Linked DNA regions of Homo sapiens: region 1 is linked to region 2. The links come from fine-mapping of genetic effects on gene expression. Tissue or cell type: monocytes after LPS. Region 2 holds a variant in brackets; the other region holds the start of a gene. All regions are shown on one strand. Distances are between the middles of the regions.

Region 1 (8,060 bases), 280 kb before region 2:
GACAAGAATTTTAAAACATGCAGTTTAGAAAACCAAATTTCTCAGGCCTAGAGCTCAAGTAAAAGAAAATCTGAGATAATGAAGTCTGGAACACTGGGCCTGCATTCTGCTCCTGACTCTGTGCCCTTGGGTAAGACATTGAACTTCCCCACCCCAGATTCATCCTACACCCTAAGGAGGGTGTAGGATTTTGTAGCCTTCCTAGTGATGGCATACTATTAATCAGAACCTTAACCAGCTCTATTCTCACTATCCCAGTAAAATGATGTTAAAAATTAGACCTCGTGACATGAGAGAAGAGGGGAAATTAATTACAGATTACAAAGAAATTGTGGGATCTAAGTTTAGGGTGAGGTGTTTTATTGAACCTCTAGGGTTGGTCATAGCACCTGCCATATAGCAGGTATTCAATAAATGATGTGTAATGGGTGGTTAGACTGATGGAAAGGCAGGCCTTCCCAGTGACGGTAAAGGACCTGGGGCAAAAGAGACCTGTGGTTGAGTCCTGATCCCCACACATTAGCACACTGACTAGACGAAGTTATAAGCTTCAATTTCTTCCTGTGTAAAATGGAGATAATACCTCATAGGGTTATGAGGATTAAATAAGAAAATGCTTAGTTCAGTGCCTAATACACAGGAAGCACACCGTAAATATTAGTTATTATTATTACTAATACTGTGATCATATCTTCCATCCAAAGACTTCTCTGAGGAGCAGGGGGCATCCAGAGATAAAAAGCCTGCAGGTGGGAAATCTGTTAGCCTTCTAGGGCGTTAGGTTTCTGTGGAACTCTGCACCTCTTCCCTGTCCTAGTTCTTAAGAACAGAAACTCTCCAGGGACCTCTGGTGAGGTAGCCGTGGGAAGATGAGGTGCAGAAGTAAGCTGGGACCTGTGAGCCTCAATTTCGGCCTCTTCTGCGCTGAGACCCAAGCGGATCTTGCTTGGCCTGTATGCGTTACTGGGGGAAATGGACGTGGGCCTGAGCGCGGCAGGTGCGAGGGCGCTGCCCCGGGGCCGACCACCCTGCGGGGACACTGTAGCTGTCATTCCTTCTTCTGCAGGCGGGTAGGGGAAGCGGTGGCCAAAGTGGGAGTCGACCGCTCAGCACAGTCTGTCTGAGTGTTGACCAGGAAAGTCCAGGCTCTTTCTAAATCTCGCCGCCAGACCTGGTGACGCATTCGCATGTATTTAAGGCGTTTGCACGCAGAACGTTATCACAGAATGTAGCCACCTTTCTTAACGGTCCGGGAAACCAGAGGTCTCTCCAGCTACTCAGGGTAGAGGAATTTCTCCTATCTCCATGTGACATCTTCTGATTTAGAAGAACTAATGTTAGATTTCTCTTGGGCCTTTCCACCTACAGCTATAGTCTTCCCTTTGTTTAGCTAAAATTGAGGCAGGTAGGAAAATATTATTGGGGGCATAAGCCTATTAGTGTGTAAACGTATTTTTATGAAGTGTGCCTCCAGGGAGCCATTAAAAACTGACCTCTCAACCACAGAAATAGATGAGATTTTGAGAACATTGAGAAGCTGCCTTTTGCAAAGTAAATTTGCAATGGTCCTTGACGAAGGGGGGTCGGGGGCGGGGAGAAGTCCAGCCGAGAGAGGAGCTCATTCCACGCTATATTTTTGCAGTTGAAAAGCTGCCTAATCATCGCTAACCGCTTCCCGCATAAGAGTTCTGGGAAGACTTCAGAAACAAGGCAAATGAAGACTTTTCACTGCCTCCTTCGGGCTGTCGCTTCCGGAAGCCGAAGTCCTAGCACGCAGAGCAGCAGGAGAGGGTTACTTTCAGGCAATTCCACTGAGCAAAATAAATCACTTAATGGCATAACGTTCTGGCTTAAAAAATTGGAATTTATCAGAGGCAAAAATATCCTTCAAGAAACTATGGACACTCCGCGCCCTATTCATTTCCATGGCAGCAGAGTATCTGCATCTTGAGCCACCTATACAGATTCATGCCTCGTATCGCTCTCACCTCCTTTCTTTTTGAAGTAAAGCCCTTTCCCAAGAAGGCGGCCAGAAAGTGGACCCCACCGGGGGAAAAAGAAAAATGAAACGCAAATCAGCTTGGCACTGCTTGCGTCTTCCAAAACGCGGTGGGACAAGGCTATTGAGTCTATAGCTAATTCTTTCATGTATATAAAATGTATACATATGTATATATTTTTATATACATAAAAGAATTCATATATATGTATATAGCTATGTGGAGCCCTGAAGCAATTCTCCATGCTTTTGTCTCCCTCAAGTTCCCCAGGTGGAGGCAGTCATAAGCATTATAAGCCGCCTTAGTGACCACCAGGGACGGAAACCGTTAATTATCACGTTTCCTTTCATCTCCAGGGGCCCTTTGGCCCGTGACACAAGAGGCTTCGGTATTGGCGCTTTCCCAGAACTGGCCCAGAGGAGCCAGTTCAGAGTGTGAGGTCGGGTCTGCATTGAACGTACACACCGAGGTCTATCAGACTCCCCCGATTTTAGCGAAGGGTGCTGACTGCTGTGCTGCTAGAGGCTAGCAAGCTCCCTGTGCGCAGCTGATGAGTTTCAGCAACTCGCCACCTGGGCGCTTTTCTTTAAATTTTGGGAGTAAACTGGGAAAATAAAAAAATCTCCACGTCCACTGGCTCTCTCCCCTTCTCCAACTTCCTCTTTCGACTCGTTTGTGGGAGTTTTCTCCTCTTTGCTGGGACTATAATGTGATGCGCAATCGTTTGTGAATGAACAAAAGTCACCGGCAAGCAGGGAGACGGGGACAGATCGCTGACGGCAGATTGAGGGTGGCAGCAAAGGCCCGGCCTCCAAGGATAATGGGGAGCCGTTTTCCCTCACGCCTGGTCTCTATGGCCCCCTTCGTCTTCCAGGTAAAATGAATGTTCCTTCATCCATCATCCGCAGAGTACCCTCAGGCGTGCGTAGAATCTGCTGATGAAACCTATTAGCGCCGACTGGGCAGCTTTGTGGAGCCACCCGAGGCTCTCCATTGTGGCCTTTGTCTGCAGAATTTAAGCATTTACATAATGCATTAGCACGGAACTCAGCACCCGGTGGGGACATCGCGTGCCAAGCCTGGCGCGGCCAACGCTTCAGCGGCTCCCTCACCCGGCAGCTCCCTAGGACCACCCTCGAGGAGGCATTGGAGTCGGGCTGCAGGCGCACGGGCAAAGAACTTAGCATCTCATCCAAGTACTTCGCCTTCCTTGGCCGTCTCCGGGAGGTTATGCTTAAAAACATAAAAATAAAAATAAAAATAAAAATAAAGGGAGGCGGACAAAGTTTCGGTGGGTGAACTGAAGCTGGGTCCATGTGACCCTGAAGCCGGAGAAATAAACTTAACATGAATCTTGCTTTCCTGGCGGGCGTTGGGACCCCGCCGTTTTTCATGCCAACCGTTGGAAGCTTCGTACTCAACGGCCACAGGTGCCTAGGAGCGCAGAGAGGCCTCGGGTTCAAATCACCGGCGCGCAGGGACTGGACTCGCGGGTAGCGACCCCCCCAACCCCCCCCCCCCCGCCCTACACACACACCCTCGCGCCGGCTGAAAGCATGGAGGATTCAGGGCATTTGAAAAAAGAGGGGCTGGGCGCGGTGGCTCACGCCTGTAATCCCAGCGGTTTGGGAGGTCCAGAAGGGCGGATCACTTGAGGTCAGGAGTTCGAGACCAGCCTGGCCAACACCAGCCTGGCCAACATGGTGAGACCCCGTGTCTACTAAAAATACAAAAATTAGCCAGGCGTGGTGCCTGTAATATCAGCTACTTGGGAGGCTGAGGCACGAGAATCGCTTGAACCTGGGAGGCGGAGGTTGCAGTGAGCCCAGATCGCGCCACCGCCCTCCTGCTCTGGGTGATAGAGCAAGGCACTGTCTCAAAACAAAACAAAACAAAACGAAAGATTCGGTCAGGAAAGAATCTGCAGGCATTCGAGGCGCTCGCACTTTGCAAAGTAAATGCAATCTCTTTATTAAGCCGAAGTCCCTCATATCTATCCTTTTAGAGGAAGGTGGTCCAACTCAGAAATCTCTCCCAAGAGGACTTTCCACCGAAGACTACCGCGAAGTGCCAGGAACTCGCCCCAGTCCCGACAGGTGCAGGACCTTTCGTGCCGCCACACCTTGGGACTCTACCTCCCTAAATAGGCCACTTAAAAGCCAGTAGTGCAACCGGGATCCCGCGGCGATAAAGAATCACTGTGCAGAACCCTGGAGCTGGGAGTCGGCCCGCCCCCCTCCCAAAGAAACCGGGATCCCGCGTCCTCCCCGCCGCTAGCGCAGCGCGCCAGCGGCGCCCAATCAGTGAGCTTTCCGGGTCTGTGACGGCCTTCGGCTCCGCCCCCTCGACGGCCATAAAAAGTCGCAGCGAAGCCTGCACCTCCGAGCACCGCGCGCGGCCCTGCCCCCGGCACGGCCCCCAGGTGCGCTCCTTCTCCGGCTGCTTGTAGCACTGGTCTCACTGTCCCCGCCGTCAGCCACCGGTTCCTTATCCGTCTCATTCCCCATTGTGGCTTGGCTGAGCCGGTCGCCAGGCCTCGCTGTCCTCCTTTGCCTTCCTCTCTCCTCAGCGGCCGTACTTTGCGCCGTACCTCACCTGGCCTGCAGGTGAGCAGCAGCGCAGCACCCCTGCCCGGCGAGCTTAACTTGCCCAGCCCGGCCCCTGCCGGAGTGGCACCGGCACCTCTCCAAGACGCCCTCTTCCCTGCAGGATGAAGAACCCCATGCTGGAGGTGGTGTCTTTACTACTGGAGAAGCTGCTCCTCATCTCCAACTTCACGCTCTTTAGTTCGGGCGCCGCGGGCGAAGACAAAGGGAGGAACAGTTTTTATGAAACCAGCTCTTTCCACCGAGGCGACGTGCTGGAGGTGCCCCGGACCCACCTGACCCACTATGGCATCTACCTAGGAGACAACCGTGTTGCCCACATGATGCCCGACATCCTGTTGGCCCTGACAGACGACATGGGGCGCACGCAGAAGGTGGTCTCCAACAAGCGTCTCATCCTGGGCGTTATTGTCAAAGTGGCCAGCATCCGCGTGGACACAGTGGAGGACTTCGCCTACGGAGCTAACATCCTGGTCAATCACCTGGACGAGTCCCTCCAGAAAAAGGCACTGCTCAACGAGGAGGTGGCGCGGAGGGCTGAAAAGCTGCTGGGCTTTACCCCCTACAGCCTGCTGTGGAACAACTGCGAGCACTTCGTGACCTACTGCAGATATGGCACCCCGATCAGTCCCCAGTCCGACAAGGTATGATGTGTGACTCCCAGGGGAAGTGGGCTCCGCGGAGATGCCCCCTCCCATCCCTGACCTTTTCTCTTCCCCGCGAGTAGGGATCTAATTCCTGGACACCTCCCCTACCACTTCCATACCATCCTTTTTCTTTTTCCTTTTTTTTTTTTTTTTTTTTTTTTTTTTTTGAGACGGAGTCTCGCTCTGTTGCTCAGGCTGGAGTGCAGTGGCGCGATCTCCACTCACTGCAAACTCCGCCTCCAGAGTTCACGCCATTCTCCTGCCTCAGCCTCCTGAGTAGCTGGGACTACAGGCACCCGCCACCACGCCCGGCTAATTTATTTTTGTATTTTTAGTAGAGATGGGGTTTCACCGTATTAGCAAGGATGGTCCCGATCTCCTGACCTCGTGATCCTCCCGCCTCAGCATCCCAAAGTGCTGGGATTACAGGCGTGAGCCACCGTGCCCGGCCTTCCATAACATTCTTAAAGTTCTAGATTAAGTAAGGAAAGTTCTGGTGTTCCTAAGGTAGGCTAAGTAAATAAGCAAATGGCAACGTGCCTTGCAGGATATCTCGAAATGCTTAGAGAAAGGATGTGGCAATGCAGGACCGCTTCCAGAGATTCCAGAGCTGCCCAGTATTGCTGCAGAAGTCATCAGGTGTCCACCCACAGTGTAGTTCAAACGACAAAGGGCAAGTGACTGGGGGTGGGGGATACAAGGAATCAGTCACCGCTGCTTGCAACTTTAACCAAGAATTTCACTTGAAAGGAAGAGGTCCAGAGTTTATATTTAATCCATAACACTATAAACAAAGTGTGTGCCTTTAAAATAAGGAACCATGCAGTTTTCTCCCTTTGAAAGCTGCATAGAGGGATTTTTCATTGCTTGCTATAAGCTATCAAAATTCCCAGTAAGAGGGCCCCCCTGGTAGTTCCCTTATTCTTTGTGTTGGTGCTTCAGAGTTGTATTTTCCATGGTATTCTGAATTCTTTCTGGGTTGGCTTTGATCCTCATCTAGACTTCATTGTTAAGCATCCTTTACCCATTAGCCCTGAAGGTAGATTACATTGTTTATGGGTTCCCCAGAGATCAATACAATTAGTTTTCAAGAAGAGATGTTAAACATTGGAAGGTAATTTTTATGAGTATTTTGAAAAAATACTCATGATTATTAAATTAGCCACAAATCCAAAGGGAAAAATGGATTTTTATTTCCTTTTAAAACCTCTTAACTTTTAAAAATAGTTAAGATTTTAAGCCTGAAACTTCACTTACAATTGGAAACTTTCTCAGCCTTCATTGCACTTGTTAAAGAAGTCATTGTTAATGTTCAGTCTTTATAATGGAAACCTGGGCAATAACATATGAGCTTTAGTGTTACTCTTCATGTTTAGATATTTTTGGGACCAGAAAAAGCTAAGTCAGTTTTTTTCATGTAACCAGTTTTTAATTGCTCCACATCTTGGTTAATTTTTTTGACCCATTTGGGAACATCTTTCTCTATCCTCTGTGGGAGAGCATGGAAGTATTTTGCTTTTATAGATCGGTGTATGAAACTCCTTATAGATTTTATAGAGCCACAAAAGACTCAATCTAGGAATTCTTTTCCAAGTAAAATAAAAATACAGTTAGAGCACTGTGCAGCGATTCAAGAATCACAGCTCTAGTCCAGGCCTGTTTAGAAATGAACTCCACCACATTTACAAACACGGGCTCCCAAAGTGTACAAAAGGAAACATGTCAGATTTACTTAGGAACCAAGCAAATCATTTCTCTAAGGAAAAACAGTATTTCTATCAGGTAATTAGGAGTTACCCTTTCATGGAACACATATAGCGCTGCATTATATATTTCTACAGAAAAACAGTAACTAGTGCTTTTGTAAGGTAGTAAAATATTTAATCTGCATAAATAACTAGTTGGAGTAGTTTTTCATCTTTGGAAACTTTGTTAGGGTCTACAGAAGTAGAGAAGTGTTTTAATTGCTGTTGCTGCATAGCACCTCTTGTGAAACTGAGTTTTGTCTTCACTTTGAATGGTCTAACAAACAATTTGGCCACAGAGTAGATTTCCCGGGGGAAAAAAAAAAGTTTTCATCCCAAATTTCCTAATTCTACAAACTGTTTTTGAACATGCACTGAGAGAAGTAGGTCATTAATACTGAAGGAAGGACTGGTTTCTACTTTTTAGAAACATAAGAAATTATTTGATTCTGGGTCTGATTGCTGAGTTCTCCATATATGCAACTAATATTAACATGAGAGTTACAAAGTTGCCTCTTACTTAAATTTGAGTTAATAAAAACTCTCAAGAACACACTACCCCTAAGGAAAACACTGCAATTAGTTTGCAAATGAATGAACTGGAAAAGAACATTTACTCCTTTGTGGTAACACTCTATTTTACAAGTTTAGAAGTCATAAAATAATGGGATTTTTATAATACTGTTGACAATCAGTATTTTGTAAACTAAAAATTCCTTTGGTTAATAACTATTACTATTCCTTATGCTTTTTCTACTATGATTTTTTTTTACTTTGTTAATACTGCTCTTTCATTGCCAAAAATGATTGCAAATGCCCCTTTTAATTTGTGTGGATTGAGTGCTCACAAGAGTGTTCCTACAGACTTATTGACCCCTTCTAGAAATTTCCTACTGTTGAGCACCACTAAAGATGCCTGCTGGTCTGCTGACCAAGTGAACAGGAACAGGGTATTAGACATGAGTTGCTTTTTGAGAAAAATCTGCTTTTGTGGGAAATACAGTCGAAAATGATTCTGATTGACTTAATTATAAATTACCAAGGAAAAAAATAAGGATAACT
Region 2 (8,060 bases):
AAAATAGAGTCTGCTACTTGGCAGGAAGTTTGGAGGTAGGCAGAACACAGTTGCTGTCAGTTGTTTGAAAAAAAATCTTCCTAACTGTACCCCAGAAGAAATTATTTTGTAGCTAATAAGTGCTGTAGCTAATAAGTGCTGCTGAGTTGCAGAGATGCAGCAGGAAGATGGGGATGCAGTACTCCAGGGACCCTGCACTGGATGGAGGAGGCAGGCTGGCCCAGGGAGAGGGGCAGAAAGTCAAGTTACTTTTACTCTCCTAAACTATTAGACACTTGAAAGGATAGAGGGAGAGGAGAGGAAAATACACATTTTTTTTTGAATGGACAAAATGCACAGGATATGCTTTAGAAATCGGCTAATTATCTCATAGCCCAGTAATAATACAAGCAAGAGCCTTCCACATACTATGTGAGGGATTACAGCTGGACTGTTCATCCTTTTGCTAACTTAGGCATCTCGGCACCATGTGAGCCATCAGGGTTGTTGACACCCAGGAAGCCGAGCTCCTGTGGCCCTCATCACTCATTTAAAAGCCCATCATAGTGAGGGCATGAGCAGAGGGAGGGCAGAAAGAGACAATCATTTCTTTTTCTTTTTAAGATGCATATTGCAGCTGGAAATGCCAAAACTGAGAACCAAGAATTGTTATCATTTGTAAAGAAATGAGTCAGAAAAAGTCATAATTCAATTAATATTTCATCTGTAGTTGTCTATTTTCCTAAACCAGTTATCTTGCTTAATATCACTCAGCTGCTTTGTTCTCAGTGAAAAACAGGATGCAGAGACAAGAGGAAGCCCCAGGGAAGTACTTCTCCTGGAGGCGGAAGTTTGGTCAGAAGCTTCCTCCTTTAGGAGTCTAAGCAGGGATGTGGAGAGAAGATGGGGAAAATATTTGCCCTCTACGAACAGAAGAAGAAAATTTGAAGTATCTAGGTTACTTTTGGTGATCTGGTAGATTGAAACATCAGTTCGGTGAACTGATGTGCTGGAGTAATACATTGCCTTGAGAAACCCCAAAAGTTAGGAGGATGCTGACTCCTTTGCAAACAATGTAGGGTAATGTCACTCACACTGCCACACCTATTATAGGATACGCTTTTTATAATATTGTTCTTTAATTGATGTATAACAATGGTACATATTTATGGAGTACACACTGATGTTTCAATACATAAAGTGATCAGACCAGGGTAGTTAGCATATCCATCATCTCAAATAGAATATCTTTTAATTTCAGACATTTCATAATGATAGAGCAATGAATTTTAGAATTTATGTTTTCATACTCTATCCCTTGGGGAAGTGATAGCAAAATTATTTAAAAAAGAGAACATAAATCACTGTTTTTATACTAATAAAATTAGCTAGAACCTCTCATATATGACATGATTGAACCAATTTAACATTGCAGAGTGATAATTCTAGGTCAAAATTTCCAGCCGTCTCTTGTTCATCTCTACCTTCAAGGCCAGGCACAAAAATACTTAATACATCTAGAATCAAACTAGCTTCTTTCTGAAGACTTCTTTTCATTTTGAAGGTTCTATACCTCAATTAAAATTAGTCTCTCTGCCCTCTCTTACATACACAGACACACACTCAAACTCATGCACACACCCTAAGGAAGATTAAAGATACAGTTTCAACAGGCTGGCAGTAGAATTCATCTTAAGAATCAAACTTCTCTGTTCAGGTCAATGTATGGGGAGAAGATAAAGTTCCAAGGGCATGATTCACAAGGAGATTATGAAACAGTAAAGGAACCAAGCTTTTTTCCCTAAGAAGAGGAAGGAATGTGGGAATTTGGAAATGGTGTCCATCAGAGCAAAAAGGAAAGTGAAGGAAGCCAAGGAACATAGCAAAAGGCTGGAACCTTTGGAGAAAGTTGAAGAGTGAGAAATGTCTAGCAGTGTGGATGGTGACTACTAAGAATAGGGATGTGTTATAAGTAAAATCATGTTTCTTATACAAATATAAAATGAGCACATATGAAAGATTGTATTTAACTTCTTCATGAAACCAGTAAGACGTAAAAACCAGTTCAAAGCAAAATTTGAGGAACACACATACACACACACACACACACACACACACACACACACGCAATGAGGAATGCAGAAATCATTTTGCTAAGATGCAAAACTGGTAAATATCCTATAGGACAATAATATATATGCAAAATATTATAATGTTTGGCATCTCTTCTGCATGATGAAATTAATTATATTTCTACTAGTCAACATTTAAATGTTTCTTTGAACAAGAATTATTTGCATTACTCTGTTTCTACATCTTAATTACTACTCCCTCTCACAGACTCCTAAAATAGCCTAGTCAATAGAAAGACAATCCGAGATCCACACCTCTAAGGATTCAGACAATTCCTGGAGACTGCTCCTAGATGCCTAGAATTGCACTGAGAGGACACTCCGTAATTGGTTTTGCCCGTTTCCAAATCTTTTGTCATTTTTCCTAACAGATAATAATATTCAATTTGAAGGATATTTTGAGATATAATTCTCTATCTTTCCAAATAGTGAAGTTTGGCACACACCTGTATGTCCAGTGCAGGCTATCTTTGGGAGGATGGTGTTCAGAAATACGAAGGAAATGAGCTGACTTTGAAGCCTAGATTAGTGTGGAGCAAGTAGAACAAGATAATTGCTGGGAATAATGTGTGAATGAGGTTTAGAACTCTGCAGAAGGAACTCAGCACTAGAGATGACCGGCAGGTTGGAAAGCACTGAAAATTAACAGAAATCTTAGGGAGGCCTTTGCATTTTCTCCAAGATAAGGGATACTGGGCTAAATAGGATGACATTAATTCATATGTTAATATTAAATCATAGAAAAAGATAATGGGATTTCTACTTTAAAGTGCATATAGTGAAGGGTTTTTTATATCTGTATCTCCTTCAGTTCTGCTCTGATCTTAGTTATTTCTTGCCTTCTGCTAGCTTTTGAATGTGTTTGCTCTTGCTTCTCTAGTTCTTTTAATTGTGATGTTAGGGTGTCAATTTTAGATCTTTCCTGCTTTCTCTTGTGGGCATTTAGTGCTATAAATTTCCCTCTACACACTGCTTTGAATGTGTCCCAGAGATTATGGTATGTTGTGTCTTTGTTCTCATTGGTTTCAAAGAACATCTTTATTTCTGCCTTCATTTCCTTATGTACCCAGTAGTCATCCAGGAGGAGGTTGTTCAGTTTCCATGCAGTTGAGTGGTTTTGAGTGAGTTTCTTACTCCTGAGTTCTAGTTTGATTGCACTGTGGTCTGAGAGACAGTTTGTTATAATTTCTGTTCTTTTACATTTGCTGAGGAGAGCTTTACTTCCAACGATGTGGTCGATTTTGGAATAAGTGCAGTGTGGTGCTGAGAAGAATGTATATTCTGTTGATTTGGGGTGGAGAGTTCTGTAGATGTCTATTAGGTCTGCTTGGTGCAGAGCTGAGTTCAATTCCTGGATATCCTTGTTAACTTTCTGTCTTGTTGATCTGTCTAATGTTGACGGTGGGATATTAAAGTCTCCCATTATTATTGTGTGGGAGTCTAAGTCTCTTTCTAGGTCTCTAAGGACTTGCTTTATGAATCTGGGTGCTTCTGTATTGGGTGCATATCTATTTAGGATAGTTAGCTCTTCTTGTTGAATTGAGCCCTTTACCATTATGTAATGGCCTTCTTTGTCTCTTTTGATCTTCGTTGGTTTAAAGTCTGTTTTATCAGAGACTAGGATTGCAACCCCTGCCTTTTTTTTGTTTTCCATTTGCTTGGTAGATCTTCCTCCATCCCTTTATTTTGAGCCTATGTGTGTCTCTGCACATGAGATGGGTTTTCTGAATACAGCACACTGATGGGTCTTGACTCTTTATCCAATTTGCCAGTCTGTGTCTTTTAATTGGAGCATTTAGCCCATTTACATTTAAGGTTAATATTGTTATGTGTGAATTTGATCCTGTCATTATGATGTTAGCTGGTTATTTTGCTCGTTAGTTGATGCAGTTTCTTTCTAGTCTCGATGGTCTTTACAATTTGGCATGTTTTTGCAGTGGCTAGTACTGGTTGTTCCTTTCCATGTTTAGTGCTTCCTTCAGGAGCTCTTGTAGGGCAGGCCTGGTGGTGACAAAATCTCTCAGCATTTGCTTGTCT[G/A]TAAAGGATTTTATTTCTCCTTCATTTATGAAGCTTAATTTGGCTGGATAAGAAATTCTGGGTTGAAAATTCTTTTCTTTAAGAATGTTGAATATTGGCCCCCACTCTCTTCTGGCTTGTAGAGTTTCTGCTGAGAGATCAGCCGTTAGTCTGATGGGCTTCCCTTTGTGGGTAACCCGACCTTTCTCTCTGGCTGCCCTTAACATATTTTCCTTCATTTCAACTTTGGTGAATCTGACAATTATGTGTCTTGGAGTTACTCTTCTCGACGAGTATCTTTGTGGTGTTCTCTGTATTTCCTGAATTTGAATGTTGGCCTGCCTTGCTAGGTTGGGGAAGTTCCCTTGTATAATATCCTGCAGAGTGTTCTCCAACTTGGTTCCATTCTCCCCGTCACTTTGAGGTACACCAGTCAGACATAGATTTGGTCTTTTCACATACTCCTATATTTCTTGGAGGCTTTGTTCGTTTCTTTTTATTCTTTTTTCTCTAAACTTCTCTTCTCACTTCATTTCATTCATTTGATCTTCCATCACTGATAACCCTTTCTTCCAGTTGATCGAATCGGCTACTGAGGCTTGTGCATTCATCATGTAGTTCTCATGCCATGGTTTTCAGCTCCACCATGTCATTTAAGGACTTCTCTACATTGGTTATTCCAGTTAGTCATTCGTCTAATCTTTTTCAAGGTTTTTAACTCCTTTGCAATGGGTTCAAACTTCCTCCTTTAGCTCGGAGAAGTTTGATCATCTGAAGCCTTCTTCTCTCAACTCGTGAAAGTCATTCTCCATCCAGCTTTGTTCCGTTGCTGGTGAGGAGCTGCATTCCTTTGGAGGAGGAGAGGTGCTCTGATTTTTAGAATTTTCAGTTTTTCTGCTCTGTTTTCTCCCCATCTCTGTGGTTTTATCTACCTTTGCTCTTTGATGATGGTGACGTACACATGGGATTTTGGTGTGGATGTCCTTCCTGTTTGTTAGTTTTCCTTCTAACAGTCAGGACCCTCAGCTGCAGGTCTGTTGGAGTTTGCTGGAGGTCCACTCCAGACACTGTTTGCCTGGCTATCAGCAGTGGAGGCTGCAGAACATTGAATATTGCTGAACAGCAAATGTTGCTGCCTGATCACTCCTCTGGAAGCTTCGTTTCAGTGGGGTACCCGGCCGTGGGTTGTCAGTCGGCTCCTACTTGGGGGTGCCTCCCAGATAGGCTACTTGGGGGTCAGGGACCCACTTGAGGAGGCAGTCTGTCCATTCTCAGATCTTAAACTCCATGCTGGGAGAACCACTACTCTCTCCAAAGCTGTCAGACAGGTACTTTTAAGTCTGCAGAGGTTTCTGCTGCCTTTTGTTCGGCTATGCCCTGCCCCCAGAGGTGGACTCTACTAAGGCAGGTAGGCCTCCTTGAGCTGTGGTGGGCTCCACCCAGTTCGAGCTTCCTGGCCGCTTTGTTTACCTACTCAAGCCTTAGCAATGGTGGGCACCCCTCCCCGAGCCTCACTGGCCCCTTGCAGTTCCATCTCAGACTGTGTGCTAGCAATGAGTGAGGCTCTGTGGATGTGGGACCCTTTGAGCCAGGAGTGGGATATAATCTCCTGGTGTGCCATTTGCTAAGATCACTGGAAAAGTGCAGTATTAGGGTGGGAGTGACCCAATTTTCCAGGTGCTGTCTGTCACAGCTTTGCTTGGCTAGGAAAGGGAATTCCCTGACCCCTTGTGCTTGGCTGGTTTTTTGAAAAGATCAACAAAATTGATAGACCGCTAGCAAGACTAATAAAGAAGAAAAGAGAGAAGAATCAAATAGATGCAATAAAAAATGTTAAAGGGGATATCACCACTGATCCCACAGAAATACAAACTACCATCAGAGAATACTATAAACACCTCTATGCAAATAACCTAGAAAATCTAGAAGAAATGGGTAAATTCCTTGACACATACACCCTCCCAAGACTAAACCAGGAAGAAGTTGAATCTCTGAATAGACCAATAACAGGCTCTGAAATTGAGGCAATAATTAATAGCTTACCAACCAAAAAAAGTCCAGGACCAGACGGATTCACAGCCGAATTCTACCAGAGGTACAAGGAGGAACTGGTACCATTCCTTCTGAAACTATTCCAATCAATAGAAAAAGAGGGAATCCTCCCTAACTCATTTTATGAGGCCAGCATCATCCTGCTACCAAAGGCTGGCAGAGACACAACCAAAAAACGGAATTTTAGACCAATATCCCTGATGAACATCGATGCAAAAATCCTCAATAAAATACTGGCAAACTGAATCCAGCAGCACATCAAAAAGCTTATCCACCATGATCAAGTGGGCTTCATCCCTGGGATGCAAGGCTAGGTCAATATATGCAAATCAATAAATGTAATCCAGCATATAAACAGAACCAACAACAAAAACCACATGATTATCTCAATAGATGCAGAAAAGGCCTTTGACAAAATTCAACAGCCCTTCATGCTAAAAACTCTCAATAAATTAGGTATTGATGGGACGTATCTCAAGATAATAAGAGCTATTTATGACAAACCCACAGCCAATATCATACTAAATGGGCAAAAACTGGAAGCATTTCCTTTGAAAACTGGCACAAGACAGGGATGCCCTCTCTCACCACTCCTATTCAACATAGTGTTGGAAGTTCTGGCCAGGGCAATCAGGCAGGAGAAAGAAATAAAAGGTATTCTTAGGAAAAGAAGAAGTCAAATTGTCCCTGTTTGCAGATTACATGATTGTATATCTAGAAAACCCCATTGTCTCAGCTCAGCCCCAAATCTCCTTAAGCTGATAGGCAACTTCAGCAAAGTCTCAGGATACAAAATCAATGTGCAAAAATCACAAGCATTCTTATACACCAATAACAGACAAACAGAGAGCCGAATCATGAGTGAACTCCCATTCACAATTACTTCAAAGAGAATAAAATACCTAGGAATCCAACTTACAAGGGAAGTGAAGGACCAATTCAAGGAGAACTACAAACCACTGCTCAACGAAATAAAAGAGGATATAAACAAATGGAAGAACATTCCATCCTCATGGATAGGAAGAACCAATGTCATGAAAATGGCCATACTGCCCAAGGTAATTTACAGATTCAATGCCATCCCCATCAAGCTACCAATGACTTTCTTCACAGAATTGGGAAAAACTACTTTAAAGTTCATATGGAACCAAAAAAGAGCCCACATTGCCAAGTCAATCCTAAGCCAAAAGAACAAAGCTGGAAGCATCACACTACCTGACTTCAAACTATACTACAGGGCTACAGTAACCAAAACAGCATGGTACTGGTACCAAAACAGAGATATCGACCAATGGAACAGAACAGAGCCCTCAGAAATAATAGCACACATCTACAACTATCTGATCTTTGACAAACCTGACAAAAACAAGCAATGGGGAAAGGATTCCCTATTTAACAAATGGTGCTGGGAAAACTGGCTAGCCATATGGAGAAAGCTGAAAGTGGATCCCTTCCTTACACCTTATACAGAATTAATTCAAGATGGATTAAAGACTTAAATGTTAGACCTGAAACCATAAAAACCCTAGAAGAAAACCTAGGCAATACCATTCAGGACATAGGCATGGGCAAGGACTTCATGTCTAAAACACCAAAAGCAATGGCAATAAAAGTCAAAATTGACAAATGGGATCTAATTAAACTAAAGAGCTTCTGCACAGCAAAAGAAACTACCATCAGAGTGAACAGGCAACCTACAGAATGGGAGAAAATTTTTGCAATCTACTCATCTGACAAACGGCTAATATCCAGAATCTACAATGAACTCAAACAAATTTACAAGAAAAAAAAACATCAAAAAGTGGGTGAAGGATATGAACAGACACTTCTCAAAAGAAGACATTTATGCCTCCAACAGACACTTGAAAAAATGCTCATCAT

Direction of the effects. Positions count from the first base shown, and alleles are read on the strand shown. Sizes are in standard deviations (SD) of each study's normalised expression.
With allele G in place of A in region 2, the expression in monocytes after LPS of the gene that starts at base 4,384 in region 1 is higher (large effect, 1.7 SD a copy in Fairfax 2014).

Evidence for each region. PIP is the estimated chance that this variant, and not a neighbour inherited with it, causes the effect.
Region 1: it holds the start of LRAT, and the variant in region 2 is fine-mapped to the expression of LRAT in monocytes after LPS (Fairfax 2014, PIP 0.95).

What each region holds. Positions count from the first base shown.
Region 1 is chr4:154,739,617-154,747,676 of GRCh38, forward strand. It overlaps LRAT (lecithin retinol acyltransferase), which reads left to right and starts at 4,384. Exons shown (of 3, transcript NM_004744.5): 1 at 4,384-4,606; 2 at 4,710-5,250. The coding sequence starts at 4,711. RefSeq lists enhancers at 2,197-2,710, 2,711-3,222, 3,223-3,735.
Region 2 is chr4:155,015,855-155,023,914 of GRCh38, forward strand. No RefSeq gene overlaps it. Among named protein-coding and RNA genes, the nearest start is that of NPY2R-AS1, 190 kb to the right of the region's middle. The variant G/A (reference allele first, on the strand shown) is at 4,149.